Regions from separate parts of the Homo sapiens genome. Here all the other regions are reported to be linked to region 2. Evidence: microRNA targets listed by miRTarBase, many of them from high-throughput screens and not tested one by one. Region 2 holds a microRNA gene; each other region holds the end of a gene's coding sequence.
Evidence for each region. The annotated mature microRNA hsa-miR-98-5p reads UGAGGUAGUAAGUUGUAUUGUU and lies in region 2 at 1,788-1,809, shown strand. An mRNA with a match to its seed (bases 2 to 7 or 8) in the 3' UTR can be bound and repressed. Matches are read on the target gene's strand: a 7mer-m8 pairs with bases 2 to 8, a 7mer-A1 pairs with bases 2 to 7 and ends in A, and an 8mer does both.

Region 1: the mRNA of CLDN12 is a reported target of hsa-miR-98-5p. Seed matches in the 3' UTR shown: 8mer at 3,376-3,383.
Region 3: miRTarBase lists CHRNA9 as a target of hsa-miR-98-5p. The part of its 3' UTR that is shown has no 7-base or 8-base seed match.
Region 4: miRTarBase lists NFKB2 as a target of hsa-miR-98-5p. The part of its 3' UTR that is shown has no 7-base or 8-base seed match.
Region 5: the mRNA of TPST2 is a reported target of hsa-miR-98-5p. The part of its 3' UTR that is shown has no 7-base or 8-base seed match.
Region 6: the mRNA of ZCCHC3 is a reported target of hsa-miR-98-5p. Seed matches in the 3' UTR shown: 7mer-m8 at 2,663-2,669.

Annotation. Positions count from the first base shown.
Region 1 is chr7:90,411,954-90,417,343 of GRCh38, reverse strand. CLDN12 (claudin 12) reads right to left here. Exons shown (of 4, transcript NM_001185072.3): 3 at 5,295-5,337; 4 at 1,390-4,700. The coding sequence starts at 4,667. The coding sequence ends at 3,933. Among named protein-coding and RNA genes, the nearest start is that of CLDN12, 11 kb to the right of the region's middle.
Region 2 is chrX:53,555,108-53,558,107 of GRCh38, reverse strand. It overlaps MIR98 (microRNA 98), which reads left to right and starts at 1,767; the gene lies at 1,767-1,885. HUWE1 (HECT, UBA and WWE domain containing E3 ubiquitin protein ligase 1) reads left to right here. Exons shown (of 84, transcript NM_031407.7): 60 at 681-726. It overlaps MIRLET7F2 (microRNA let-7f-2), which reads left to right and starts at 834; the gene lies at 834-916.
Region 3 is chr4:40,354,295-40,359,301 of GRCh38, forward strand. It overlaps CHRNA9 (cholinergic receptor nicotinic alpha 9 subunit), which reads left to right. Exons shown (of 5, transcript NM_017581.4): 5 at 1-923. The coding sequence ends at 226. Among named protein-coding and RNA genes, the nearest start is that of CHRNA9, 21 kb to the left of the region's middle.
Region 4 is chr10:102,401,022-102,406,411 of GRCh38, reverse strand. NFKB2 (nuclear factor kappa B subunit 2) reads right to left here. Exons shown (of 23, transcript NM_001322934.2): 18 at 5,363-5,390; 19 at 5,081-5,232; 20 at 4,894-4,963; 21 at 4,495-4,667; 22 at 4,253-4,364; 23 at 3,888-4,160. The coding sequence ends at 4,036. It overlaps PSD (pleckstrin and Sec7 domain containing), which reads left to right. Exons shown (of 17, transcript NM_002779.5): 12 at 876-1,066; 13 at 1,159-1,229; 14 at 1,357-1,514; 15 at 1,685-1,829; 16 at 2,427-2,570; 17 at 2,982-3,793. The coding sequence ends at 3,212. Among named protein-coding and RNA genes, the nearest start is that of NFKB2, 8.0 kb to the right of the region's middle. RefSeq lists a silencer at 2,306-2,600 and an enhancer at 4,841-5,390.
Region 5 is chr22:26,524,425-26,529,814 of GRCh38, reverse strand. TPST2 (tyrosylprotein sulfotransferase 2) reads left to right here. Exons shown (of 7, transcript NM_003595.5): 6 at 1,553-1,601; 7 at 3,548-5,390. The coding sequence ends at 1,594. Among named protein-coding and RNA genes, the nearest start is that of TFIP11-DT, 15 kb to the right of the region's middle.
Region 6 is chr20:296,950-302,339 of GRCh38, reverse strand. It overlaps ZCCHC3 (zinc finger CCHC-type containing 3), which reads right to left and starts at 4,770. Exons shown (of 1, transcript NM_033089.7): 1 at 2,019-4,770. The coding sequence starts at 4,753. The coding sequence ends at 3,542. RefSeq lists silencers at 841-1,135, 4,327-4,396, 4,577-4,666.

The DNA of each region.
Region 1 (5,390 bases), not on the chromosome of region 2:
TTTTGTACTTTGAGACTAAGCAAATATCCTGCCTCTCATAAAAAATTCAACTAGTTTTAACCCCATTGATGTTTTTCTCATTTTTTTCTCTACTTTTTATTTGGTATTTTACTATAAGAAAGAGCTTTTCTTTCTTCCCCTATTTATATCAGCATGGACATATGGATTTGTATTTTATTCAATGAGTTATAACCCATTACTATCATTTATTTTGATGTTCAGATTGTCCCAGATTTGGCCAATGGGAGCACCTTCAATCTGGCGCCTGTGAAATTTGATAAGCTCCCATGATTCTTTGAGCGTTTCCTCACTTTTTGGCAGAATAAGATGTGCTGGGCCTTGGATAAAACTGGTTGTGTCTGATGGTTCTAAGTAACATGTATTTCTCACTTCTGGTTGGTAAACCAGTCTCTGGTGAACCTGGTTAGCCCGAATGGTTTCTCTACCATTTATTCACCCTCAGTGAACCTGCACAACAGTCCAGAACGGACTGTTGTTCGTTAGTGTAACCCAGTTTGAAGTAGCTTCTGATTTCCAGTGCAACATATGGCTCAGCTATCTAACCTATCAGAGCCACAGGTTTCAGTGAGAAGTGTATGTAAGAACTGCCCCAACACAGGTGTAATCCAAAACTATACATTCATCACAGGTTTCAGAAATGTTGAGGTGACATGCCTGTCAGGACCACTTCTCCTGGTAACCTCGAGCTTTGAAGAGTACGGAAAGTTCCCTCTACTTAACTGTTTGAGAACTGAACTCCCAGTCTCTAAGATCACAGGCTGAGAAAACTCCATTGATGAGGCAAATCTGGCCCACAACTTGTCTCTTTGCAGACTGTTTAAAAAAAAAAGAAAAGGAGAAAAAAAAAAGCCCAGTGAACTGTTAGGACCACAGGACTACTTGGACTACTCTTAGAAATGGATAAAACGTCTTGGCACTTGTGGAATAAAAGTTCCATGTTTTCCAATTCCTTTCTAGTTCCTTTTTCTGAGACAAAGTCTCTGTCACCCAGGCTGGAATGCAGTGGCATGATCTCAGCTCACTGCAACCTTCACCTCCCATGTTCAAGCAATTCTCGTGCCTCAGCCACTCGAGTAGCTGGGATTACAGGTGCACACCACCATGCCTGGCTAATTTTTTGTATTTTTAGTAGAGACAGGGTTTCACCACGTTGGCCAGGATGATCTCAAGGGCCTGACCTCAAGTGATCCGCCTGCCTTGGCCCCCCAAAGTGCTGGGATTACAGGCGTGAGCCACTGCACCCAGCCTTCCAGTTCACACGTTTTAGAGCTTTAAATGGAACTGTCTTTTTCAATTTACATATATCTGAGAAACATTTCTCAAAATATTTCACCTTAAAACACTGAGGAAAAAAACAGAAGCAGAAACTTGTAAAAATACATCTTTTAATAAACATTAAGAAGTACAGCGCACTTTTATTGAGGTTTTACATTGTAGTTTACAGCAAATATACTATCCATTGTAGTGTATATGTACAAGTAAAGTAAACTTAGGTTTGTTTTCTCTCCCATGGCTGGATAAACCAAATCTGATACATCCACATTTAAGGTTGTTTTCCAAGTTGGTTTCCATAAAAGGCCTTTAACAATAATAGGCTTTTAACAACAAAAAGGTATCCCTCCCATCACAATGAGAGCTTGATGAGGGCTCAAAAGTGACTTCAAAAACTGTAAATAATTATTTTCCTTGGACGGCTTTAAAAACAGCTACTGATAGCAAATCAGAAACACTAAAGAAAAAAGACAATAAGGAAACAGCTGTTTGTCTAGTGAATCCATAATAAATACCAATTTGAGGCTATAGATTACAAAGCCAAAATATTCTTATAGGAAAGTTAATGTTTATATTTACAATCCCATGGACTAAAAAAACTGTCTAATATCTTAAAGACTGAGTCTACCTTTATTTAACATTGTTTATACACAAAGACCCAAGGGATGGTAGAATTCTTGATCCTTCTGGACAAAAGCATAGTGAGAGGGGACTGAAATTAACAAAAAGGGAAAATTAACATTAATCTCAAAATTCTACCCATCGTTGTCTTAAAATGATCAAGACTCAGCTACATCTGAGAAAAAGGAAAAGGATCAGAAGTGAAAGAAATCAGAAGCCAGTAATTAAAAAAATCATAACCTTGTGTGCTTTCTACTGACGGCATTTAAAAATTTATACAACTAGATTTATTCGCTATATATATAAACTAGTGTTGGAATTAGGGGAAAAAGTACCAAATACATCTACACAAATACTAGAATCATATTCAGAATTGCAAAAAGGCATAATAATCTGTTTACCATATAACTAGCTGTTTGTAAAATCTGTAATGGTTAATAAAAAATCCTTACGAATATAGTACTAATATGTAGTAAATTACACCAATTAAATAAGCAGCTCAAATTCATAAGGCTAAAGACCCAATATCCCTGAATTTCTAAGTGTTCATCTCAGCTTTAACATGGTTTCATCTAATTGTTACCTCATCAGAAGAGACATTTTTAATAACTCCTCCATCCTTAATACATCATCATACTTTCAGAAGTGGAGAGGGAACAATTTCCCTACCACTTTTGTCCATTCTCATAAATCAGTGTTATTACAAAATCTAGGCTAGCACAGGTGCCTTAAAGGATACAATGGACTGAAGTAAACAGAATTTCAAGGTCCAGGATATTGTTGGTGTTGTACAATTTGTCTGTCTGCCAGAAAGTTGTGTCTCTGGTTGAAATATTCCTGGATCAATGATTAAGAAGTTAAGGCCAACTGCCAACGAAGTCAGATTATTCCCCAACTGCCAGGTAACATTTTGATCTTCTCTATTAAAATGTCTTACTGGATGGAACCAGATCTCATACTTTTCATGTATCCTCTATAGCACCTACTAAAGTGTTAGGCAGAGATATATGCTCAAGGAAATAATCAGTGACGGGGGCGAGAAATGAATCAAGGGTGAATGAATCAAGGTTATGGTAAAGCCATACCTTACTTCACCCATAACTCAAAAGGCAGTCACCAGAGTAAATCTCTAGTGTACTCACTGAAGAACAGACTTCTTGTCCCCTACTAAATTATGTCTGAAAGAGAACAAACCATTATGGCCCTTTTATTTATTTCTCCTAGCCACTAAGAGATTGTATATGGGCACGAGTACTGCTTGATGGAAGATATCTCCAAAAAAGAGTTTTCTGCCTCAGAGGAAACACTAACCTGTCATAAAGCACATTCTAATCCCAATAATACAATTTATGGAATCATTAATGTTAAAAATTATTACATGTTATTCATAAGTAGGTGATATTTAGAATGGTAGTCTTATTCTAACATCGTTAAAATACGTTTTACTTTTAAACAGTGGCATGAGGTAGAAGAAAGTCACAAAAGAAAGTAATCTTCAACATACTGACACCTATTCATACAATTAGCCCCGATAGAAGAGTTACAGCCTTAAGCTAGATTATTGACTACTATTAAAATATTACCCTTACCTGAAATAAATTTCTTATATTTGAAACTGCCTTTTCTTTGCAGTTAAAGGTATTATAGAAAAAGAAAAATACACACTGAAATTTTCATGAAGATTGTATACAACAGCTTCTGCTAACCATCATTCTTTAACATGTTGCTCTACATTACCTCAATTGTGATGCAGGCCTCTTCCACTTAAATAATTAATTAGATATCAATATGAAGGCTAAAATTCCTTCCAGTATAAGAAGCAAAATTTAAAAAATTCACATTTAATATAATATACTTCTCATAAAAACTAGCAGCACTTCATTCTACTAGGACATATAAATTTGGCTTCATTGATTGGTCAAAAACAAAGGAAAATGTATGTAGGTCCAAAAGAGCTCTTTGCACAAGGGGAATGTGAGGCTACAAGAAGTTTTCTTTAACAATTAACTATTTCCCCATTAAGTGGTGTGTGAAACTACTGGAATGTCAATTTCAATGGCAGAGAGGCGAGAGCGTGCTGAATAGGGCTGTGAGTAAGTATGCATACTGGGTGGATGGGAGTACAATGGTTGCCAGAAAGGAGAAGGCAAAGATTTGCATGTACAATACCAAATAAATAGTATAAGGGAAGTCATAAACAGGCCCCCAGCACTAGCAATAGTGACATACACTGCATAGTCAAATGAAAAGACTGGCTCAAACTTCTTGTTCAGATGGATGTTATAAAAGATGACCCAGATAGATGGGGAGAGGCTCACAGTACCTGCCAGGAAAAATAGCAGCCCAGCCACCAGGTGGCAACCTGCACTATTGACCAGACACTTGGCCAGTTTGATGTTGGGCACCGAGGACCTGAAGGCAGTGTTGCACATTCCAATCAGGCAGAGCAGCAGGGCACCCATGGCGATCAGCATGCTGAGGGGTAGGGCAAACTGGAGGACACGCAGGTCCAGCTGGTCAACTGATGAGTACCAAGTAGTGTCGTACATCAGGCAGTCACTGCTCCCGTCATACCGGGCACATTTCACCCACAGGCCTGTGTAAACAGTCAGGTTCTTCTCGTTTCTGTTGAATGTGATCAATCGTAATTTTCTCCAGTTGGGAAGCAGAGTCCCTGCAAAGAGGCCTGCTACTGAGGCGATTCCACACAGGAAGGAAAGGACTGTGGCTGCGTGGACATCCCGACAGCCCATGGCAGGCAAGCTTGTGGAGTACTGTCAGTCAGACTAGGGGGTGACACACAAGAGGACAAATCATGAGGGGACAATAGCAGAACAGAGCAGGAAGGGTGGTGCCAACTGGCAACACATCTAATGATGAAATGTCAATGCAAAGAGGGAAAGTCTCTCCCTTGTTTCCTCTCTGTACAGTACAAATGTATATACATGCAGGTGTGTGTGACCTCAGAGCACAGGTGCACACACATTTGGTTATTACTGACTGGGTCATAGAGCAACTAAAATCTTTAGCCATCGGTATTTTTCTTCACAATTAAAAAAACAACCAAGATAATGTTAAAGTCTCTTACAATCACACCTTCAATCTTCTTTTTGTCAATAATCGTTCTTTCAACACATATACATCAAGCACTCTGTATGTGTCAGGCACTCACACAGCAAGGGCCCACTCATCAATCATCAGTTAGCTACAAACACCACAAATTCAGCCTCAAATGCTCATGCAGCAGGGGTGAAGGTGGCTCATAAAAAGCAAAGGTGTAGGGAAAGAAGCAGTACAGGACAGGGGAATGGTTGAGAGTCAACTCTTAGCAAGGTTGCTTGAATTCTAATCCCCATCTCCTCACTTACTAGCTCACTGACCTTGGGCCAGATTCAGAACTTCCCTGTGCCTCGTTTTCTTCATCTGTGAAATGGAAAAAATAACAGTGCCAACCTTGCAGGGTTGTTCTATGGGTT
Region 2 (3,000 bases):
TGGGACCTCAGACAGAGATCTTTTAAATGTCTGAGTAAATGTTGATAGAATTATACATTACAGTGTATCACTTGATATAAAAGGGGGAAAAACTGATAGAAATACAAAGAAATAAGACTTGAGAGTGAAAGACTTTAGTATACCCTACTCAGCAGTTAAGGAATCAGGTAGATTAAAAATAAGGGTAGTGAAGTGTTCAGTTAAAATAACAAGGTTGATCTAACAAATATCTTTATATAGAACTTTTTACCTAATACACACATTGTTTCAAACTTGATATAGGATGAAAAATAAGTGAACCTAGCCTGTGACTGAAAAGACTAGAGTGGACAAAATAAAAAATAAGCCCCATGAAGGGAAAAAATACATAGATGAAACCAAGAAATTCTTGCTAGAATGATCATGATCGTGCCCATCCCTAAGGGGTTTTTATTATCCTTTCCTTCCATATTTATTTCCCCCTCAGCCCCAAACAATTCTTGAACCTGAGTATGTATAGAGAAATTGGTCATATATTTGCACAGTGAAATGATCACCTTCCTTTGGTCACATGGCCAAAGCATTCTCCATTAGATCACTGAACTCCTAGATGGTCTGGGTGGAGGATGGTGACTATTACAGTTGACCTCTATCTTAGGTGCTTGCAAAGTCCCACATTGGTCTATCCCTTCTTTTTGCAGTGTACTGCATCTAAGTCAAATGACTCCACTGAACAGAATCTCTCAGGTAACTCTCCTTCCCTTTCTCCCTTCTTACTAATCAATTGGTTGCTTCTTTATCCTGATAGTTCCGAGTAGCTGGCCCACATAGGCTGAAGATGGACACTGGTGCTCTGTGGGATGAGGTAGTAGATTGTATAGTTTTAGGGTCATACCCCATCTTGGAGATAACTATACAGTCTACTGTCTTTCCCACGGTGGTACACTTCTTCTCCGACTGGCTCTGTTCAGGTTCTTGTTCTGGTTATTATCTACTTTGTTCTGGCATGGGTAATGAGGTCATGTGTCTTGTTCATTTCCTGACTGCAACTCTGTCCTCTGAAACAGCATGTTCATGTACATCTTTGAAGTGGCTGGTCCTTTGATGACCACCATGGTGTGGCACTTCATGAGAATAACTGATGACAGTGGTTCTCAAATGCCAGTCCTCTGTGGAAACGAACAAAATCAAGGAGCTTTAATGCCTTTTTCATAAAGCTGAATTTATTCCATTTAAAAGGCTGTTTTTGTATTTAGAGATCATATTCCTAATTCTGTGGTACCAAAATATTTTTATTAAATGATGTTGATTGGATGTTTTTTCTTACATGGCTAAACTAAAAGTTGGCAACCCCTACATTAGTCTCTACTTTTTGTTCTTTTTTTAATTAAATTTTATTGGTCCATGGAATCTAAAAGTCTAGGAACATTGTCTTGGATAGTGTGCTGTTCATGAAGGTAGCTCTCTGGGCTTAGTGGTATGACTGCCGTATGTTTCCTATTCCCTCTGATCTTCTTAACAATGGTCAGTAGCCATTTTGTGATTCTATCAGTTGGTTCATGTGATATCATATGTCTCCCCCACCCATATTTCCTCAGAACATTCTTCTGCCTCCCTACACCTGTCTCCTTTCGCACTTGAGTTGGAAAATGATTGTACCAAAGCCTGCACAATATTTTTTAAAGCAGTGAAGTAGGGTAGATGCCTTGGTACCCTTAATCTAGCAAAAGATCTTTAAAAGAGTCTGTCACCATGTAAAATGGCCTTTTGCCTGCTGCCCTTATTAGAGGATTCTGCTCATGCCAGGGTGAGGTAGTAAGTTGTATTGTTGTGGGGTAGGGATATTAGGCCCCAATTAGAAGATAACTATACAACTTACTACTTTCCCTGGTGTGTGGCATATTCACACTTAGTCTTAGCAGTGTTGCCTCCATCAGACAAAGTTGTAGATGTTCCTTGGATAATTTGGACTGGAAGAAAAGAGACATGGAAGGGGACAGATGGTGTTTAGGGTGAGGCAGATGTCATTATAAAGTGACTTGTCTTTCATTAATTGGAGCATATAATTATTTTACCTTTGGGCATGAACTCATTTTGCTATTCTTCAACTGTGTAATGATTGCATTTTATTAGTAATAGAACAGGAATGTGTGCAAGGGAATGGAAAGCATACTTTAAGAATTTTGGGCCAGGCGCAGTGGTTCATGCCTGTAATCCCAGCATTTTTGGGAGGCCGAGGCGGGTGGATCACCTGAGGTCAGGAGTTCGAGACCAACCTGGCCAACACGGCGAAACCCCGCCTCTACTCAAAATACAAAAATTAGCCAGGCTTGGTGACACTCGCCTGTGGTCCCAGCTACTCAGGAGGCTGAGGCAGGAGAATTGCTTGAACCCAGGAAGTGGAGGCTTCAGTGAGCTGAGAACACGCCACTGCACTCCAGCCTGGGCAACAGAGCAAGACTCTGTCTCAGGAAAAAAAAAAAAAAAAAAAAGATTTTGAAGGGCTGGACGCAGTGGCTCACGCCTGTAATCCCAGCACTTTGGGAGGCCGAGGTGGGTGGATTGCTAGAGCTTAGGAGTTTGAGACCAGCCTGGGCAACATGGCAAGACCCTGTCTCTACTAAATATACAAAAAATTAGTCAGGTATGGTGGCACATGCCTATAGTCTCAGCTACTTGGGAGGCTGAGGTGGGAAGATCACCTGAGCCCGGGAGGTGAAGGCTGCAGTGAGCCATGATTGTGCCACTACACTCCAGCCTGGGCAACAGTGAGACCCTGTCTCCAAAAAAAACAAATAGAGTTTTGAACGAAATTCTGACCATTTCTTGCTCCAAATAGATGAAGTGGGAGGATCAATAGGATTTTGGTAGTTAGATTTTCTGTGTACCTATAGGTCAGAGACATTTAGCCTCACCCTATATGGCCTGAAATCTTCCCCCTTCCACCTGCAGGGCACAGAAAGGATTTTATTCTTAGAATCCACAGAGTCAGAGCTCCAGTTCTTGCATTCTTGGGACAGA
Region 3 (5,007 bases), not on the chromosome of region 2:
CTGCCAGGGTAAGAACCCTCAGGAGGCCGAGAGTTACTGTGCACAGTACAAAGTGCTGACGAGGAATATTGAGTACATCGCCAAGTGCCTCAAAGACCACAAGGCCACCAATTCCAAGGGGAGTGAATGGAAGAAGGTGGCGAAAGTCATAGACCGATTCTTCATGTGGATTTTTTTCATTATGGTGTTTGTGATGACTATTTTGATCATAGCAAGAGCGGATTAGTCACAGATATTGGCTTTGCTATCTGGGTAGAAATTAATACAATTCCCTGTGATCTATTCCAATGTTCTTCCAAGATTTTTGTTCATCTATAATTTAGGGGTTATGTTGTCTGTGCTTTTTATTTTTAGCTTCAAATGAATGTCGAAGCTATCTGCTCTGTTAAATTAAGCAGAAGAACCAAAATTTCAAGGGTAGGAAGATGGAAGAAATAGGGAAAGAGCCCTTTTATAGCCCACCGTAGTGGTGGGTGACTGGCCTCTAGTTTATATAATTATTTACCTCTTTGGCAGTACAGATAACAAAATACACTTTACTGGTAAAATTTAAAACAAAAAAGGCAAAACAAAACAAACTCATTTTCCCCTTAGTTCCCATTAAAATATGCATTTGAAAAATGAAATAGTCATATATATATTAGTGTGATTTAAGTCTCAATGGTACCTTATTCAGGCATAGTGCATTTGAAGTCATATCTCAAATAGTGGAATAAAAGGTTTTGTCCCATGTAAAGAAAGTCTAAGCATCAGCTGTTTAATGGGGAAAAGAACTTTCTTCATAATGGTGATGTCGTATATGTTGGTTATGTTTTATATAAACCCAAAAGATGAAGTCATTCCTGCATTTACCCTTTGATTAAAATATGATAGATGAAGCTGTTCCTGCATTTAGTCTTGTATTAAAATAAGGTGATTAGCAAGCTGGGCTCATCCATTCATTCATTGAACTTTTCACCAAACATGGATCACGTTTTTTCCTGCATGTAATAAAAGCAATATGATTCACATTTGCATGGGGTGTCACAGCAATTCTTATGCACAAGCCTGATCACTTTGATCCTCACAACAACTCTGTGAGTTGGGAAGGCGAGCGTTACTATTCTTTCTCAGAGAAAGAAACCGTGGCTTAAAAGGAGGATGTAAGTGACCTGCCTCCTCAACATCCAACACGGTGTAAGTGGAACTGGGACTCACCCCTCAGCACTGGGACTCAGAGTTGGGCTACATCTGCTAAAGTCACCCTGCTTTTGGCCATGACAAATTATGATTTAGCACAGGAGAGACTGAGAGATTCTTATTCTTAATTCTGAACTTTCTGCCCTAATTTACTTCCTGTATGTCTCAACTTCTTTCCTACTTTCAATAAAATGTGACTTCAAATTCACCCCCCATTCCCACCTAGATTAAAATGATCCAAGGCTGGGTGCAGTGGCTTACATCTATAATCCTGTTTTTTTGTTTTGTTTGTTTGTTTGAGAGGGAGTCTCACTCTGTCACCCAGGCTGGAGTGCAGTGGCACGATCTTGGCTCACTGCAATCTCTGCCTCCCAGGTTTAAGCAATTATCTTGCTTCAGCCTCCCTAGTAGCTGGGACTACAGGCGTGTGCCACCACACCCGGCTAATTTTTTTGGTATTTTTTGTAGAGACGGGGTTTTGCCATGTTGGCCAGGCTGGTATGGAACTCCCGGCCTCAAGCGATCTGCCCACCTTGGCCTCCCAAAGTGCTGGGATTACAGGCATGACACCGTGCCCAGCCCTATAGTCTCAATATTTTGGGAGACTGAGGTGGAAGATTGCCTGAGCCCAGGAGTTCCAGAGCAGCCTGGGCAACATGCAGAGAACCTGTCTCTACAAAAAAGTTAAAAATTAGCCGGGCATGGTGACAGACAACTGTGGTCCCAGCTACTTGGGAGGCTGAGGTGGGAGGATCACTTGAACCCCAGGAGACTGAGGCTGCAGTGAGCTGTGATTGCACCACTACACTAGCCTAGGTGACAGTGTGAAACATTCCCTAACTGCCAACTCATTAACTATTCTTTTTCCAGTTAAACAGAGGTGGAGAGAAAACAGGAGTCAACCTAGGAAGGGGAGGATGATGTTTGGTTTAAACATATAGACATTGCTTTTTGTTTGTTTGTTTTTGTTGTTTTTTTTTTTTAGACGGAGTTTCACTCTGTCACCCAGGCTGGAGTTCAGTGGCCTGATCTTGGCTCACTGCAACCTCCGCTTCCTGGTTTCAAGTGATTCTCCTGCTTCAGCCTCCTGAGTAGCTGAGACTACAGATGCGTGCCACCACGCCTGGCTAATTTTTTGTATTTTTAGTAGAGACGGGGTTTCACCATATTGGCCAGGCTGGCCTAGAACTCCTGACCTCGTGATCCGCCCGCCTCAGCCTCCCAAAGTGCTGGGATTACAGGTGTGAGCCAAAGCACCTGGCCGGCATTGTTTTTTAATTCTTGTGTTTACTCATTCCAGAAAATATTTGTTGTGCACCTATTATATACTTAGTGGTATGTATGCCAGCTGCCTTGGAGGGAACAAGTATGAAACGTGGCTTCTACCCTCCAGTTGCTCACATGTTGCTCACAGTTCAGTGGAGGAGATACCAAGGAAATAGGCAAACATAGTCAAGTGTAAAACGTGCTATCACAGAATCACGGACAAAACACCATGGGCACAATGATGATGAATCTGTTTGAGGGAAAGCTTAGGAAAGACTTTGCAGGGTATAACATTAACATTTGAGTTGAGGTTTTTTATTGTTGTCTTTTGCTTTTGAGATGGAGTCTCACTCTATCACCCAGGCTGTGTAATCTCGGCTCACTGCAACCTCCACCTCTTGGGTTCAAGCAATTCTCCTGCCTCAGCCTCCTGAGTAGCTGGGACTACAGGTACGCGCCACCTCGCCTGGCTAATTTTTGTATTTTTGTAGAGATGAGGTTTCGCCCTGTTGCCCAGGCTGGTCTCAAACTCCTGACCTCAGATGTTCTGCCCGCCTCGGCCTCCCAAAGCACTGGGATTACAGGCGTGAGCCTCTGTTTCCGGTCTTAAGCTGAGTTTTGAAGGTTGAGTAGGAGTTTGCTAGACAAAGAAAGAAATGAGGGTAAGGATTAGAAGGGATTGGTGAAAGAAGAGTGTGGGCAGAGCTTAGAAGAACAGAAACCAGGCTGGGTGCGGTGGCTCACACCTGTAATCCCAGCCCTTTGGGAGGCTGAATCGGGTGGATCACCTGAGGTCAGCAGTTTGAGACCAGCCTGACCAACATGGAGAAACCCCGTATGTACTAAAAATACAAAATTAGCTGGGAGAATCGCTTGAACCTGGGAGGCGGAGGTTGCAGTGGCCAAGCCTGGGCGTCATTGCACTCCAGCCTGGGCAACAAGAGCTAAACTCCACCTCAAAACAAACAAACAAACAAAAACAAAAAAGGAAGAACAAAAACCTTGTTTAGTCACGGAATGGAATCAGACAACTTTTCTTCTTATTTTATTTTAATTACAGAAGTAATTTTATCAGTTAGAGTTGTATTTGGCTGTGAATAACAGAAAACCCAGTGAGCCATAACTTAAGCAAACAGAGGTTACTCATCTCACACAAAAATAAATCCAGAGCTGCAAAGCCCAGGGATCTTTCCATCTTTCCTCTCCTCCATTTGGAAGTGAAGCCCAACAGCCTGAGGCTTGATGCTTCGCGGTCACAGAAAGGCGGTTGCATCTGTAGGCTTTGCAGCCACATTCCAAATGGGAAGAAAAAAGAATGGAAGGCCAAAGAGACATACCAGCCGAACTTCCCTCTTTAAAAAAATAATAATAATAATAAAAATTTTTAAAAATGCTAGGCTGGGCGCAGTGGCTCATGCCTATAATCCCAGCAGCACTTTGGGAGGCTGAGGTGGGCAGATCAACTTGAGGCTGGGAGATCGACACCAGCCTGGCCAACATGGCAAAACCCTGGCTCTACTAAAAATACAAAAATTAGCCAGGCGTGGTGGTGGGCGCCTGTAATTCCAGCTACTTGGGAGGCTGAGACATGAGAATTGCTTGAACCCAGGGGGCAGAGGTTGCAGTGAGCTGAGATCATGCCACTGCACTCCCCTCCAGCCTCTGCGACACAGCAAGACTCTGTATCAAAAAGAAAAGAAAAGAAAAGAAAAAAATCCTAGAAGCAGAAGCACATCCATGACTTTCTTCTGTAGCTCATTAGCTAGAAATGAATCACATGCAAGAAAATCTTGGAATAGTTTTACCTTCCCAAAGACAATCAATGTTATCTTTATAAGAAGGAAAGAGAGAGTAGATGTTGGGTAGATAACAAGCAGTTCCTGCCTCAATTATACAGCCACACTATAGTAAGGGCAGGATATAAAAGAATAACAGGCCAGGCACGGTGGCTCATGCTTGTAATCCCAGCACTTTGGGGAGTCGAGGTGGGTGGATTACCTGAGGTCAGGAGTTTGAAACCAGCCTGACCAACATGGAGAAACCCCATCTCTACTGAAAATACAAAATTAGCCGGGTGTGGTGGCACATACCTGTAATCCCAGCTACTCGGGAGGCTGAGGCAGGAGAATCGCTTGAACCCAGGAGACAGAGGTTGTGGTGAGCCAAGATTGCGCCCTTACACTCCAGCCTGGGCAACAAGAGCGAAACTCTGTCTCAAAAAAAAAAAAAAAAAAAAAAAAGAATAACAATTACTCAAGTTCCACAATCATAGCAATAACAACTATTCATTTACTATTATTTTCCTTCAATCATATTTATGTGTCTAGTTTCTCTGCTATAATTATAATCATTATGTATTTACTATTTTGTCCTGCTATATTTATTTATTTATTTATTGAGACAGAGTCTTGCTCTGTTGCCCAGGCTGGAGTGCAGTGGCTCTCTCTCGGCTTACTGCAATATCCGCCTCCTGGGTTCAAGCGACTCTCCTGCCTCAGCCTCCTGAGTAGCTGGGATTACAGGTATGTGCCACCACACCCGGCTAATTTTGTATTTTCAGTA
Region 4 (5,390 bases), not on the chromosome of region 2:
TGAGGGTAGAGGCCTTATCTTCACAGTTCATAGATCATTCAAATTTGCCGTTATCCACTGAGACTCCCTCACTGTCCAGTTAGCTGGGAGTTCCCAGTCATTGGAGATCTCAGGGGAGGTGCAGCTCAGGATTAGGGTGCAGGGGGAGATCAGGGAAGGCTTTTGGAGGGTTGAGACTGGGGCCATGAAGTTGGGGCAACATTTGGGAAGAGGAAAGGGGAAGCTGGAATTTGGGAGGCAAAGGTGTGGTGGCTGAAATGAGTATGGGGTGGGGGACCAAGGGAGGCAGGCCTAGCTGGGACGGAGAAAAACACTGTTGGGGGAGATGCAGTGTAGGCTCCATATGGGAAGTAACAGGGAACTACCACAGGTTCTTGAGCAAGGGAGTGACAAGATAGAATCCGAAATTTTGTATCTGACTGAGCCTGTAGACCAGGATGTATGGGGTTGGGGTGGGGGCGGCACTAGGAAACTACTTCTTCCATCTGCTACCATTTAGCCCACAAACCGTGAGCAAAGCCTGGGGCTGGATGTGGTTGAGCCAGCGGAGGCAGGCCCGGGGCTGTCCTGGTGGAGAAGGGTGTGAGGGCTGCAGGTGTGCAGCAATGGAGAGGATAGTGCTGGCCCTACTTGCTGGGAGGAAGGGACAGTGGTGGCTCTAGGCTGGGGAGCTCTGAGGGAGGTGCCCTGCTCTGAGGAGGCACAGCTACACATTGTGGAGGCCTGATCTGAGACGGGAGACATGGCAGGACCCTCAGGTTGAGCCCCCCAAGCCACAAACACTGGGGGAGCTTTTCCAGGGCGAGCAGAGGCCAGAACTGAAGCGGGGGCCGCGGCTCCATGGCCAGCCCCCTCTGAGGTGATCACACCTGCAGAGACGAGGAGGAGCTGAGACGCTCTCTGTCTGAGTTGGCCGACCCCAACCCCAAGGTCATCAAGCGGATCAGCGGGGGCAGTGGCAGTGGCTCCAGCCCTTTCCTGGACCTGACTCCCGAGCCTGGGGCTGCCGTCTACAAGCACGGGGCCCTGGTGCGAAAGGTGCACGCAGACCCTGACTGCAGGAAGAGTATGTGGCCGAGTTGCGGGGGGCGGGCGTCTAGGGGATGGATGGGAGTGGGCCTGTTCCAGGGCCCCCTGACCTGTCTTCTCTCCCCGCAGCACCTCGGGGCAAGCGGGGCTGGAAGAGCTTCCACGGGATCCTCAAGGGCATGATCCTCTACCTGCAGAAGGTGCGGGGTCAGGCCAGGGGGCTGGGGCTGGGACTGAGTTGGCTGGTGGGTGTGGGGTGATGGGTGGGAATAGGAGGGGCTGGGCCAGGCTGCATTTGGGGCCAGGACAAGATGGACACCCCTGCAGGAGGAGTACAAGCCTGGGAAGGCCCTTTCAGAGACGGAGCTCAAGAATGCCATCAGCATCCACCATGCCCTGGCCACTCGTGCCAGTGACTACAGCAAGAGGCCCCACGTCTTCTACCTGCGCACAGCTGACTGGCGGGTCTTCCTCTTCCAGGCCCCGTGAGTGCCCTCCTCCTGCCCATCCCGGACCCCTTCCCCCACCTCCCATCCTGCTCCCCTCCCTGTCCCTGGATTTTTTCATTCCTTCTCAGGCCACACTTGAGCCAGGACTGGCATCCTGGGACAGAAACCCTGGGCCCAGGTCCCAAAGGGCTGTGCTTTCTCCCCAGGAGCCTGGAGCAGATGCAGTCCTGGATCACTCGCATCAATGTAGTAGCCGCTATGTTCTCTGCGCCCCCCTTCCCAGCTGCTGTTAGCTCCCAAAAGAAGTTCAGCCGCCCTCTCCTGCCCAGCGCTGCCACCCGCCTCTCCCAGGTAGCCCAAGCTCTGTCCACCTAGTGCCAGTGGGATGGAGGGTGTTAGGCTCAGGCCCACTGCACTCAAGGCTGCTGCGTGTGATCGTGGAGATGTCCCCTGCACCAGGATGCTGGCCACAGGGGTGAGCAGGGACTGAAATCCAGCCCCCACTGGGTCCCGCTTGCCGGCTGGGAACCCAAACATAGTGCTTTGTTTGTCCAAAGGAAGGGGCATCTTTTTTTTTTTTTTTTTTGAGATGGAGTCTCGCTCTGTTGCCCAGGTGGGAGTGCCGTGGCACGATCTCAGCTCACTGCAAGCTCTGCCTCCCGGGTTCACGCCGTTCTCCTGCCCCAGCCTCCTGAGTAGCTGGGACTACAGGCACCTGCCACCACGCCTGGCTAATTTTTTATATTTTTAGTAGAGACGGGGTTTCACCGTGTTAGCCAGGATGGTCTCGATCTCCTGACCTCGTGATCCGCCCGCCTTGGCCTCCCAAAGTGCTGGGATTACAGGCGTGAGCCACCGCGCCCGGCTGGAAGGGGTATCTTTTTAAAAATCTGCAGAGGCACTGTATAGGGCAGAGTGACCATGACCATGCCTCCCCCTGGCCGCTAGGAGGAGCAGGTGCGGACCCACGAGGCCAAGCTGAAGGCCATGGCAAGTGAGCTGCGGGAGCACCGGGCCGCCCAGCTGGGCAAGAAGGGCCGGGGCAAGGAGGCTGAAGAGCAGCGGCAGAAGGAGGCCTACCTGGAGTTTGAGGTGAGCCTCCCTGTCTGCCCCTCTGTCCACACACGCAGGCCCATACTAGGGTGAAGGGCATGAACTCTAACAGTGGAACCGGCCGGAGGTCCTTGGGCAGGTTGCTTAACCTAAGCCTCAGTTTCCTCCTCTGTGCAACAAGGATAACATTTGACATCCACTGGGGTCTCGAGGTGAGGCATGTCTCAAGCGTGCCATTTCCCCAGCTCTAGTAAAGGCTCAAGACACATTAGGTTATAGATGATGGTCCCAGGAGAGCCCAGAGGGGGCACCAGCCCGCATGGGACCATCTCACAGTCCTGGGTGGGCACCTGCCATCTTCTGCCCTGCTGGCGGCCCTCCCTGGTCCAGATGGTGGGGTGGGCAGAAGGCAGAGAAGAGGCTCTCACAGCCCCTGCCCCTCTGCCTCAGAAATCCCGCTACAGCACCTATGCAGCGCTGCTTCGGGTCAAGCTGAAGGCAGGCAGTGAGGAGCTGGATGCAGTGGAGGCAGCACTGGCCCAGGCCGGGAGCACAGAGGATGGACTCCCTCCTTCTCACTCCAGTCCCTCCCTGCAGCCCAAACCCTCCAGCCAGCCCCGGGCTCAGCGTCACAGCTCAGAGCCTCGGCCAGGGGCAGGCAGTGGGCGGCGGAAGCCCTGAGATGAGGTTTAGGGTGGGGAGTGCCTGCTGGGCACCTGAAGGATGACATGGCCCTGCCTGAGCCCGGGCCGGCCTCGGGCCACCCACGAGGGCCTCCCGGCCTAGGGCCCGACCGCGCCGGACGCGGTGTCCGGGGCAGGGCAGGGCTGGGGCCTGGGCCTCAGGAGCCTAGGCTAGGGGCACCTCCGAGAGCCCCTTTTTGTGATAATGTTTTGCACTTTTTCGTACAGGGTGGGCGGGGGCGGGAGGGGCTAGCGCCCCTGAACTTTTGATGCTTTTTTTTTGTGTGGGAGAGGCCTGATGCCGTTTCTGCTTTCTGCTGAGACCACCCCCACCCTGACACCATCAGTCCCCCTCTGTCCTGGGGCCTGGCTTGGACAGAGACCAGGATTTGGGGCTGAGCTGGTTTCCCCTCCTTCCTCCCCAAGGGCTTACTCTTTCTCTTGCTGGAGGTGGAGGAAGGGCGTCCATGCCAAGGCCCCATACCTGGGCCGGGGGCAGCACGGCCTGGCTTTCCCCCGCTTCAGTGGGCCTTGCCCTTTGTACAGCCTCCACCCCCATTAAAACTGCTCTGGACTTGCTGGCTGGGCCTCCTCCTTCTCTTCTCACCATGCCTGGCATGTGGGCAGGGTGGGTAGCTGGTTCCAGGGACAAGAGTCACATCAGGGGCTGCCATAAGTTGGGAAGGAGGGGTCCTCCCCTTCCCATGAGAATCCTTTATTTGTCCCAACTGAGGGGTGGGTGTGGGGTGTTAAATAAGATTTGAAATAGGTGGGGACGCTGTACAGGGGGTCCGGGAAGGGGGCTGGGGGCAGGCAGCAGGTCAGTGCACCTGAGGCTGGGGGTGCCCGTGGCAGAGCCCTCCTGGTGGCTCAGGGGGTGGGCCCAGCTTCTCTGCCTCCTGCTCCACTGACTGGCTCCCGTACGCACTGTCTTCCTTCACCTCTGCTGGGGGTAAATGGGGACAGGAATGGGATAGTCAAAGCCTCAGGCCTCCGGCCCTCCAGGTCCAGATCCACCTTCCAGGGAGGCCCCTTTACCTGTGCTGGGCAGCTTGTCTCGGGTTTCTGGACCCCTCAGCAGCCTCACTCCCTCCTCTAGGCCCATGTCAGACAGGGCCTCCAGTAGACCTGCCAGGTCCCCGCCAGCCAGCTGAGAAGACAGAGGAATGAGGTCTGAGTCATGGTTAGGGCATGTGCTCGGGAGCCCTGGGGCCAAGGAGGCACCTGGACTCAGATCGGGAAAGGAGGCTGGGGAGGGGGCAGGGCACAGGCCAACCCACCTCGTAGCTGCGCAGGAGGCTGCCACTGGGTGAGGTTGTCTGTCGGTACGTGTCTACCAGGCTGCGCAGCCCCAGACGCTCTGCCAGCTCTGCCCAGCTGCCCTGGGCTTCTGGCCCGTCTAGCAGCTGCTCCAGGTTCTGCAGAGCTGTATCACCAAGTGACAGTCCCGGCCCTTAGGGGGACACACATACAGACATGTCATTTACCTCCAGAGTTGGGTGGGGACATGGACACCTGAACACTGCCTTTCTCCCAAGGTAAGCGACAGACAGGACCATGAGGGGTGATGGACGGGGCTGAGGGTAGAGAAAGGGAGGCCTCCTTCAGAGGTCCTGAAGGAGAAGAGACCTCTGTGAGGAGTCAGAGGAGTCGGGCTGGGGATGCCTGATGCTTCTCACCTGCTGGGCTGGGCGGGGTCAGGGGTGGCTCCATGGTGTTCTGAGCAGCATTTAGCAGCAAGGTCTTCACCTGGGGAGACAGCCGCAGTTCTGACTACCTCCCACCTCGTCCTTAAGCCTGTGTCTTTAAGTCCAGATACTCTGGACCCCGTCACTCAGAGCACTTCTAGTCCCGGGCTGGCCTCACCTTGGTGCTGCAAGTGAGGTCAAGAGGCGTGTGGCCCCGGAAGCTGCTTCGGGTGTCCTTCTCAGGCCCTTCAGAGTCCGAGTCGCTATCAGAGGTAGGGGGTGAAGGCAGTGGGCACAGGGGCTCCTCGTTTTCAGCATGGATGTCAGCACCTGGGAGAGGGAGGCCGTCATGGGGCGGTATGGTGGGGGCCTACATTAAGGACTGCAAAGTCGGGGGACTGGGAGGCACCTCTCTCCCTTCCCCCCACCCTGTTCAAGTGCCCCTGAGGGTGAGACTGACCAGCCTTCAGAAGGAGGCGGGTGAGGGT
Region 5 (5,390 bases), not on the chromosome of region 2:
TAGCTGGGTATGGCACATGTGGCACATGTTCGTGCCACTGCACTCTGGCCTGGGTGGCAGAGTGAGACCCTGTCTCATAAAAAAGAATACAACTCAGGTACAGTCAAATGCAAGAAGCGTAGGGTGAGGTATGGGGGATGGGTCACAGAACATCCATGCCCTTTCCCGGCATGACACCCTCCCAGCCTCTCAATGTGTTTACCAACCAGGAAGCTTTCCAAATTCTGTCATTTAGAGATTTCATCATAGAGGCATGACTGATTAAATCATGGGTCATGGGTGATTGCCCAATCTCCAGCTCCTAGCCCCTAGACCCTCTCCCCTCTCCCCTCCCAGGAGGTCAGGGAGGGGAGAAGGCAGGTGGGGCTTAAAGTTCCAACCTTCTGGCTGGGTGTGGTGGCTCATGCCTGTAATCCTAGCACTTTGGGAGGCTGAGGCAGGCAGATCACTTGAGGTCAGCAGTTCAAAACCAGCCGGGCCAACATGGTGAAACCCTGTCTCTACTAAAAATACAAAAAATATTAGCCATTCGTGGTGGCACACGTCTGTAGTCCCAGCTACTTGGAAGGCTGAGGCAGGAGAATTGCTTGAGCTCAGGACGCGGAGGTTGCAGTGAACCAAGATTGCACCACCGCACTCCATCCAGCCTGGGCAACACAGTGAGACTCCGTCTCAAACAACAAAAAAAGTTCCAACCCTCTAATCATGCCTTGGTCTTTCTGAGACCCCTTCCCCTAATCCTGAAGCTATCTAGGGACCCCCAGCCATTAGTCATGTCATTAGCATGCAAAAGATACGTTTTGTTTTTTTTTTGTTTTTGTTTTTGTTTTTTTGATACCTAGTCTCCCTCTGTCACCCAGGCTGGAGTGCAGTGGCATGATCTTGGCTCACTGCAACCTCTGCCTCCCGGGTTCAAGCGATTCTCCTGCCTCAGCCTCCTGAGTAGCTAGGATTACAGGTGCCCGCCACCACACCCGGCTAATTTTTGTATTTTAGTAGAGACAGAGTTTTGCCATGTTGGCCAGGCTGGTCTCAAACTCCTGACCTCAGGTGATCCACCCTCCTCGGCCTCCCAAAGCGCTGGGATTACAGCCATGAGCCATGGCGCCCGGCCAAGATACCCTTATTCCTTCAGAGATTCCAAGAGTTTGGGGAGCTATGTGCCAGGAACTGGGGACAATGAACAAATATTTATTATTATACCACAGCTGAAATGCCATCTTGTAGAGTCCTTTCCTGGCCACCGTTTTTGAAGTAGCACAGATACTGATCACTCATAGCAGCCTGTCATATTGCCCAAGTTTGACATTTTCTTGCATCTGTGCGTGTTCAGTAGGCTTTTTCTTCAACTCGAACGTAAGTTCCGTGATCCTAGGTTTGGGTCTGTCCCGCTCACCACGCTATCCCAGCACCTGGCACATAGTAGATGTACAGTAAATACTACGTGAATAAGCATGTGCATGACTCAGTGATGCTGAGGGGTGACCCTCAATACAGCAAGGCATCCCTCACCTGGCCGTGACCCCTTCTTCTGTGTATTGTCTTTCTCCAGGTGAACCAGAACAGCACCTCCTCCCACTTAGGAAGCTCGTGATTTCCAGGTAAGCCTGTGGACTTCACTGGGGGTTCCCGCTGCTTCTGGGTGGCCCCGGAGCCACTTTTCTGAAAAGCCACTTTTCTGTCCTTCCAGAGCCTCCCTGGGGTAGACATGTCCACTAGGGTGGGCTGACCCAGCCCCATCAGAGGTTTCCATGGTGACAGACTGGGGGTGCTATTTATAGAATCAAGGCTTAGTTTTCTAGCTCTGGATCAAGGACAGGGAGAGGGATTAACGCTGAACCAACCAGAAAAAGGTTTGTCTGACACTGGGGACAGGGCAGGAAGCACCACTATGATGGGGGAGGGGGAGATTCTGGAACCATTTTTGCACAGAATGCTGTCTGCCAGTCTGGCTTCTAAAAACAGCATCAGCGTTGGGCCAGAGCAATTAATGTTCTAATAACAGTCACAAGTCGTTCTGTTCTAAGAATAACCCCCATGGCCGTTGGGCCAGGTACTGGTCCTGTGTTACTCATTTAACCCTCAGCATCCTTGGGAGGCGGATGACATGATCATTCCATTTTACAGAAGAGAAAACCAAAGCACAGAGAAGGAAGGGCTTTGACTTGCCCAAGGCTACACAGCCACCAAGGGACAGAATTCCTCCCAGGTTTGCTTTTAGTGAATGATTTTAAGTGCACATTTATCCATCCATATTCTACTAAGGGGTGGGGAAAGGGATTTTTTTGAACTTGGTAATTCAAAGATTTAAGATCTCCAGGTTTAACTCCCTTCAGCCCCTGTTTTCTTCATCTGGAGAATGGGGATTCATCATTGCCCACCTCTGAGGTTGGCCATGAGATGGCGTGAGCTGGCCCAGGTGGGAGTGCTTGGAAACCGTGAAGTGCTGGGCCCTCGCTGTGGACTTGGGCACTGGAGTTAAGGCTGCATGAGTGAGCTCACTTCCTTCTGTCCCCCAGCCTCTATGATCAGGTTAAAGGAAACCTCAAGAGAGGTTATTTTACATGGAAACACCTTCCAGCTTGGACTCTTATTTTTAGTCTCTGTATCTATTTTTAAACAATCAGCATATGTTTTAGTTTTTCTTTCAATTTACTTTGCTCCAACCTGCAAGGACTCTGTCATTATTAGGGTTCCCATCTTGAGTTGCACTAAGATCCCAGAGTTTTTGTTTTTGAGACAGAGTCTCACCCTGTTCCCCAGGCTGGAGTGCAGTGGCACGATCTCAGCTCACAGCAATCTCCACCTTCTGGGGTTCAAGTGACTCTCGTGCCTCAGCCTTCCAAGTAGCTGGGGTTACAAGTGTGCGCTACCACACCCAGCTAATTTTTGTATTTTTAGTAGAGACGGGGTTTCACCATGTTGGCCAGGCTGGTCTCAAACTCCTGGCCTCAAGTGATCTGCCCACCTCAGCCTCCCAAAGTGCTGGGATTACAGGCATGAGCCACCACACCTACCCAAGATCCCATAGTTCTATTCCAAAGAAAAGAACCCTCTCATGAAAAACAGCTTTCCTCCCTGTTCCTCACTAACTGTTCCCTCGCTGCCTTTCTGCAGATCATTAGTAGAATCCTGGACCTTCTCATTGACAAAAGCAGATTTGTTACTTGTTTTACTGTTTAAATGAGATACCATATAGAGGTGCTTTAGCTGAATCCTGGGTACAGAGTTGGCCTTGAACAAACATGAGTCCTTCTCTTGCCTCCAAGAATTCATCAGTATTTATCACATAATCACTGTCATTTGCTCTGTGTCCATAAGAAAAGTGTATATTTGAGGTCAAGTGGATGCAAGATGAGATGTGGGGAAGAACCCAGGAAACGTTTTTAAATTTAAACTCTCTCTGGCCATCTGGGATGCATTCTTAAAACATTACATGCTTATGCGAATGGATGAAGACAGTATGTTCTGCAATCACATGTATAAATATAAATGATCTATTTCAGAATTGTTACTCTGAGCCTAACACAGTCTTCCCCACTTTCAGATCTCCGCAAATGACTTCATTGCCAAGAAGAGAAGAAAATGCATTTAAGTGGAAATCGGACCTCTAATCCAAGCATATTGCTTGCTATTAATCGCCAAAACAGGACTGCTGATGAGGAATGTATTTGCATATGTTTGCAAAAGCTGAATCATTGAAAACGTACCTTGAAACTCTCTATCTCTGGACACTCCAGGGTAGAGAATGAAGGGTATGGAAGTAGTCCGGCTTTTGAAACTTAGGTATTTTATATTTTTCCCCTCAAGAACTTTTTTTTAAGAGACAGATTTGCCATCCTCCTTAATTTGCAGGACTGCCTTGGTGGCTTTGTTTGCTGGGACAAGGCCCACAACCTGTGCCTCTCCTATTGACCCTTACTTTGAATTCAAAGAATCTATTTAAGAGTTTAATATATGAGGCTTTCTTTGATTCCTCCTCAGTTCTACCTAGTTTCACAGAGGAAAAAAATACTCTTTGAATAAAGTGAACAGAGGCTCATTTGTTTGTGCCTTACTTTACTGAATGAATAGGGTTTTTTTTTTCTTTCCATACTGGATTTTGTCAGGTAGATTTGTGATGAGCAAAAAGCTGGAGAATATAGGTGCATGTAAGGCACAGCTGAATTCCTGTGTCAGGGTCCCCAGGGCCACCCCCAGGATCGATGATTGGCTAGAAGAACTCAGAATTCAGAAGAGCTATTATCCTTATGGTTATGGTTTATTACAGCAAAAGGATAAACATTAAAATCAGCAAAAGAGGCCGGGTGGAGTGGCTCACGCCTGTAATCCCAGCACTTTGGGAGGCCAAGGCAGGCAGATCGCCTGAGGTCAGGAGTTCGAGACCAGCCTGGCCAACATGGTGAAACCCCGTCTCTACTAAAAATACAAAAATTACCTGGGCGTGGTGGTGTGCACCTGTAATCCCAGCTACTCAGGAGGCTTGAACCTGGGAGGCGGAGGTTGCAGTGAGCGGAGATCGTGCCATTATACTCCAGCCTGGGTGACAGAGCAAGACTCCATCTCAAAATAAAATCAACAAAAGAAAAAGGTGCATAGGGCAGAGTCCGGGAGAGACCGGCCTCAAGCTTCCAGTTGTCATCTCCTGGTAGAGTCTTACAGACACACTTAATTTTCCCAGCAATGATATGTGACAACACGTACTAAATATTACCAGCCAGAAAGCTCACCCTAGCCTTGGGGTCTAGGTTTTTATTGCATGTCAGTCACATAGGGCAATCACATGACCGACTTTAGTTACTTAATCACCAGCTGCTCCAGAGGTCAAAATGATACAGCATGGCCCAAGGTCCCCACCATAAATCACATTATTAGCACAAACTATCTGGCCTGGTATGGCCCAAGGCCTGAGGTATACAAAGACACCCCTACTTGGGAGGATATTCCAAGGACTTAGAGGTTATCTCCCAGGAGCCCATTAAGGCCAGTTTTTTCTTTGAGATGTGCTGGGTTTGGACACTTCAAGCCTGCTGAGTTAACCCTTATAGCACAGTCCCCAAATGCTGAGGGACCAACTGGGCCTACAATAAGTTTGTATCTTTAAGGGTTAAGGTGTTTTACCCATACCTCCTTGCCTTATATCTCATGATAATATGAGGCTTTTGGAAGGCAGTGACTTATTGTGGCTTGGGGCATGGGTTTTTGGAGTCAGGCTGACCTACTGGCTGTATGGCTTGAGACTTTGTCTCTTCATCTGTAAAATGGGGAAGTTAAAACTTCATGGTGTGTATGTGTGTATGTGTGTGTTTAGACAGAATCTCGCTCTGTCACTCAGGCTAGAGTACAGTGGCGTGATCATAGCTCACTGCAGCCTCGGTCTCCTAGGGTCA
Region 6 (5,390 bases), not on the chromosome of region 2:
GCTGTGTTCCATCGCTTAGAAAAGGCCCCTATAGAGTTGGCGCTTAACAGGCATGTGTTGAAAGAATGAATGGAATGGAGGAGGCCTGATTGGAGGCTCTGAGGACAAAATCCACGTTTTTAAATATGGCTGGTAAGCCCTGTGACACCTCTTCTCGGCGTTTTCTCCCAGCCACATCTTCCCCTGACTCTTGGCCAGTCCGAACACGCTGTGTGCTCTCTGGCCTCCAGGCCTCTACATCTGCTATTTCTGCTGCTTGGCTGTCTCTTCACTCTTAGCCTGGTTCTTACTCATCTTGCAGGTTTCAGTCAGGACGTTTTCTCTTCTAGGGAAACCTTTACTTCAGACAATTCTATACAGGACAAATGTTGGCTGGGTGCGGTGTCTCACGCCTGTAATCCCAGCACTTTCAGAGGCTGAGGCAGGTGGATCACCTGAGGTCAGGAGTTCGAGACCAGCCTGGCCAACATGCTGAAACCCCATCTCCACTAAAAATACAAAAATTAGCCGGGCGTGGTGGCACGTGCCTGTAATCCCAGCTACTTGGAAGGCTCAGGCACATGAATCGCTTGAATCCGGGAGGTGGAGGTTGCAGTGAGCCAAGATCATGCCACTGCACTCCAGCCTGGGCAACAGAGTGAGACTCTGTCTCAAAAAAAAATTGTTAAATATATGATTGTAAACATTGCCTACTGTTACTTATCTGTACCTTCCATTGCAAGTGCACTGTCTTGTTCAAGGCAGCCTATGCAGAGGGCCTTGCATGGGGCCCAGCTCTAATGCCCTCCGTATTTGTTGAAGTGGAATGAATCAATGTCCCCTAGTCAACCAGCCTCAGTCCGGGCATCTCTGCACACTTTCCAGGAGCCCAAAAACAGTGAAGAATTGTAATTTGAGGGCTGCTTGATCAGGAAAGGAAGCTGGGGGAGGTTTGTTCAGCTCCAGCCCCTGGCTGTCCCTGGGCCACCAGGCAGGAGGCCTTGAAGCAGATCCTGTGGGGGATGGGCAGGGAAACAGTTTCTTCCTCTCCTCCCTCCTGGAGAGTGGGGGGATGGGGCCAGGAGAGGGAAGGTTCCTTCAAGGAGGCTCCCTGGCACAGTGCCTGCTTTGAGGAACGGAGTGGAGAGTATGGTGAATGCAGGCTTTCTCCTGGCCCCTGGCCTCCAGCTCTGTGAGAGGGAGGGAAACCGCTGGCAAAGACGGGAAAGAGGGATGGGAGGGAGGGGAGAGTCTGCTTGCTTTGGGAGACAAGGAGAGGGGTTGAACTGGCTCTGAAAGACAGGATTCCCAAGAGCCTACCAGGTCCCAACTCCAGATCAGCTCTGGAAATATCCTCAAATCACTGAGTCAGAGTCAATATACTGGGAACGTTTAACTCTCAGGATCAGATCATCCTAGCATCACCAGCTGGAAAATCCTTCAGAGAGTTGTATCTGGGGTCTGCAGGGTATTGGACCTGAAGTCCAGGGACCTTGACCCTATTCTGCCTGCAGGCCCAGTCTCCAGTGGGGGCTAACTTGGAGAAGTCAGCTCCCTGGATCCCGCTTTTTCAACAGCTGGAAGAAATGGCATTTTCCCAGAACCCAAGAATATTTTGCATCCCATCCACAGCGCGCGCTTACAGTAACAGAAAGACGAGGAAGCTGGCAAACCACCTCTCTTTCCCACAGGTCTGTAATCTCCCTGAGGGCAGGGTTCAGCTCACACATCTTATACTCTGGTCTCAAACCTGGCTGCCCATCAGAATTGCTTGAGGATGATTAACTAAAATGTTTCACTTCCTCTAACAGTGATTCTGATTTATTGGAACTGTGTTAGGACTTAAAACCCGTTTTAACAGTGTGCTGATTGTGATGCAAAGGGACCGGCACAACGTAGTAGGTGCTAAGTGTTGCCTGCAGGGGTGGGAAATGTATTTAGCAAGGTAAACAAATGGAGTGTAGGGGAAGTGGGATTGAAATACGGTCTGGAGCTGGGTAACTGTGCATCTAACACTTTGAAAGGAAATAGTGCACCAGTTTTAGCAATACAAAAGATAAATATTTATTCAGAACAAAACTTTTAACAATCAATTTTACATTCTAAGCCACAAGGAAATAGCAAAACATATAGCAAAGGAAAAGCAAACACTAAAAGAAAAGCAGTGTACTGTCTTTTCTACTGGATAACACTTAGTTGGCCCATGACCTCTCGCTTGGCCTATCTCCCAAGTACATTTTAGAGTTAACAGCTCACTCATAATTTTGGGTTAAAATCCATCTTTCTCCTGAGAATCAGGAGTTGCACATGAGCTCCAGCTAGCTGCTTCTCTAGGGTTCGTAGCTATTGAGGCTAAGGTGCAAATGTAAACCTTTGGTAGGTTTCTTTACACAGGGGCACCCCCATTTCTCACTGGTGGCAATGAATGGGGAAGGGGTAGGGCCTCCAAAGGACCTGGCACACTGTAATCCAGAAGTGGTGCCCCAGGGAGCAACGAATGCACCCTGGAGTGTGGTCCTTGGTCCGTTCCGTATCTCCCAAGTATTCAGAAGCCCCTCCTTAAAAACCTTCTCTTTCTGCTCCCTCCTCCAGGTGATTTCTCAGCATTCCTCTGGGCTGATCATTCTGGAGAGATCAGACTTTCTGGGCCCTCAAGTGTTGAGGAAATTGTTGTGAAGTGTGAGAGGTAGTGGAATGAGCACCGGGCTTGGGGTCAGGGGACTCTACTATAGGCTGGCTCTGGCACCAGACAGCTATGTGATTTTCACCCAGTCATTTAACCTCTTTGGGCCTGTTTCATCTGCTGGAAAACCAGGGAATTGGTCCAAACCAACTCTCAGGTTCTTTCCAGCAGGAATATTCTAGATTCCATGATTCTATAAAAAATGGCTTCTGAGCCACCAAAAGAGCTGTCATGAAGTCCATGCATCTTTGTGCCATAAGAGAGGCCCTTGGCCACCATTCAGAGCTTATTGATTCAGATTATATACACTTCTAACAACACTGGTTTCACAAATTCTCAGACCACGTAGATTAAAAGCAGCAAATTAAATGAGGGAGGGGAAGAGCTGCAAAAGGTAGACACTCTGATAGAAGCCACAGTCAACAATGTTTTCAATTCAGCAAACACTGATGGAGTGCCTACCACGTGTTGGGCCCCGTACCTAGTGCTGGGGCATAAAGATGAGCAAGGCAGCCCAAAGGGTGAAAATCCAGGGGAAGAAAAGGTATGGGGCGGGGAGGGCGGGAGGGGGGCAAGGAGAGAGAGAAAAAGTACAAGAAACAAAACAAATACCCAATAGAAAAACGAAAATAAAATTTTAAAAGGGAGGGGCAACACATCTGCACGCTACAGTTCTCCGCAGTCGTTATTGGTGACAGAGTCACCAATTCAGAACAGGCTGAAATGGAGTAAACTCGGTTTAAGAAGGCATAGAGAGATGTCTCTTGTAGGTTTTAAAAAGATCTCCTTCAAAAACGATAAAAAATGGTTTAAAAAAAAGTTTTGGCACTTAAGAGGGATAAGCTGGCTGTGTGTTCACCCTGGCAGGCAGGCGGGTGTTTAGTGCCCGGCCACGCCGGTTAGCTGAGCTGCCACGGAATTGTGCACTGCTTTGGGACACTGGGCAAAGGCGTGTCCTCGCTTGCCACAGAGGTTGCACACGATGCCCTTCCGGCAGTAAGGGCTCAGGTGCCCCTCCTCCCCGCACCTGAAGCACCTGTCCTGCGTGCAGCTGCCGCTCATGTGGGTCCGGGAACCACATTTAAAGCATGTCTTGGGCTGCCCCTTGTACCAGCTGTAGCCCCTCTCGGCCCCCAGGAAGAAGGCCCCTGGCAAGTGCCTGACCCCGCCCTCCCCCTGGCGCAGCTCGATCTCGCATTTGTACTCCCCGGTCCAGATCCCAAACCTGTCGGTCACTTTCACCGGCACGGCCAGCACGTCGCAGTGGCGCTTGAGCCAAGTCACAATGTCCTCCACGTCCACCGTCTCGTTCCGGAAGAGGATGAAGAGCGTCTTCAAGCTGGACTTGCTCCGCCCCAGCACCACAAAGTTCTCCCAGCAGTCCTCCTGCTCCCGCTTCTCCTCGTAGACGCGTAGGAACAGGGCCAGCTTCTCCGCTGAGCGGAAGCTCACGTCGAATTCGCGGCTGCCCGGGATCTGGATGACCGCGTAGATGTCGCTCGGGTCCATGCCGATGGAGCGCAGGATAAGCGCTCCTACCACGAAGTCCCGGGTCGGGCAGGCGCCCTCGTCTCCCTGGAAACAGATGCGGACGAGGAAGCGACCCTTGCCCGGGCCTGCCGCCGCCGCCGGCTCATCCTGGAGGGGCCGCTCGGCCGCGTCCTCGGCCTCGCCGGGCCTGGCCGGGGTCGCCATGGCGGCCGCCGCCGCCTCGGCCTTCTTCCTCCTGCCCGCCTCCGCAGCGCCCTTCTTTTTGCGGGGGTCCACCGCCTCGCCGGCCGGATCTCTCCGACGGCCCTTCGGATCCCCGCGGCCAGCCGGTGGGAAGTCGCCGAGGTCCGGCGCCGCCAGGCCCGCGGGGCCGCCGAGCCCGGCGCTCCCTCCACCGCCGCCGCTTTCCTCCTCCCGCCGCGGCGGCCGCGGCTCGCGGAATTCGCCCTTCTTCTCGGCTAGATTCTTCACCACCTGGGCCCAGCCCATCTTCTCGCGGCCGCCGTCGGCCTCCTCGCCCCGGGCCGCGGGCCGCGCGGGGGGCAGAAGCTGCGGCCGCCCCCGTTTCCTCTCTTCCTCCGCGCCGCCGCCGGTGGCCATTTTACCTCCTTCCCAGCATCCTCCACTCGCTCCCGCAGCCAAAGGGCGCCCATCGCGCGCGCCCGCCCGCCGGGGCTGTGTGGGTTTGGTTTTTTTTTTTTTTTGAAATTTGACGCTACCCTCCCCCGCCGCGCCCTCAAAGGTATCACATGCGGCGCATATTGGCCAGCGCCGGCTCTGCGCCCCCTGCGCTGAGCCTCTCTTCCGCCAGCGCTCGCTCCAACCTCACCTCCGTCCGCAGCGGGATGGGGCGCCCGGAGGCGGCCCTTTCCCCAGCGCGGGTTTGGCAGCCTCCGGCCTCGCTCTCGAGGATTTGGCGTTTCGCAAGCGGTGCTCGACGATTTCATGCTAGCAGCTTTGCTAACGGCCCACAGCCCACAGGCGGGACGGAGTTCGGCAACATCTCTCCCATTTTTTCTTTTTTGTACCTTTTCTGTTAAAAAAGCAAAAGCAATAGCAAAATTAAAACTTAGCTTTCCGTTTCCCCAGAACTGACTGCAATGCGTTATTTTTTTTCCCACGTCGGATTATGCACGTTTTCAAGAAGAAAAGTTGAAAGTTTTACAGTGAACATTTTACCATTAACTTTTTATCATTAAAATTTTACTCTGTCACACTACGCCTCGATCCATTCATC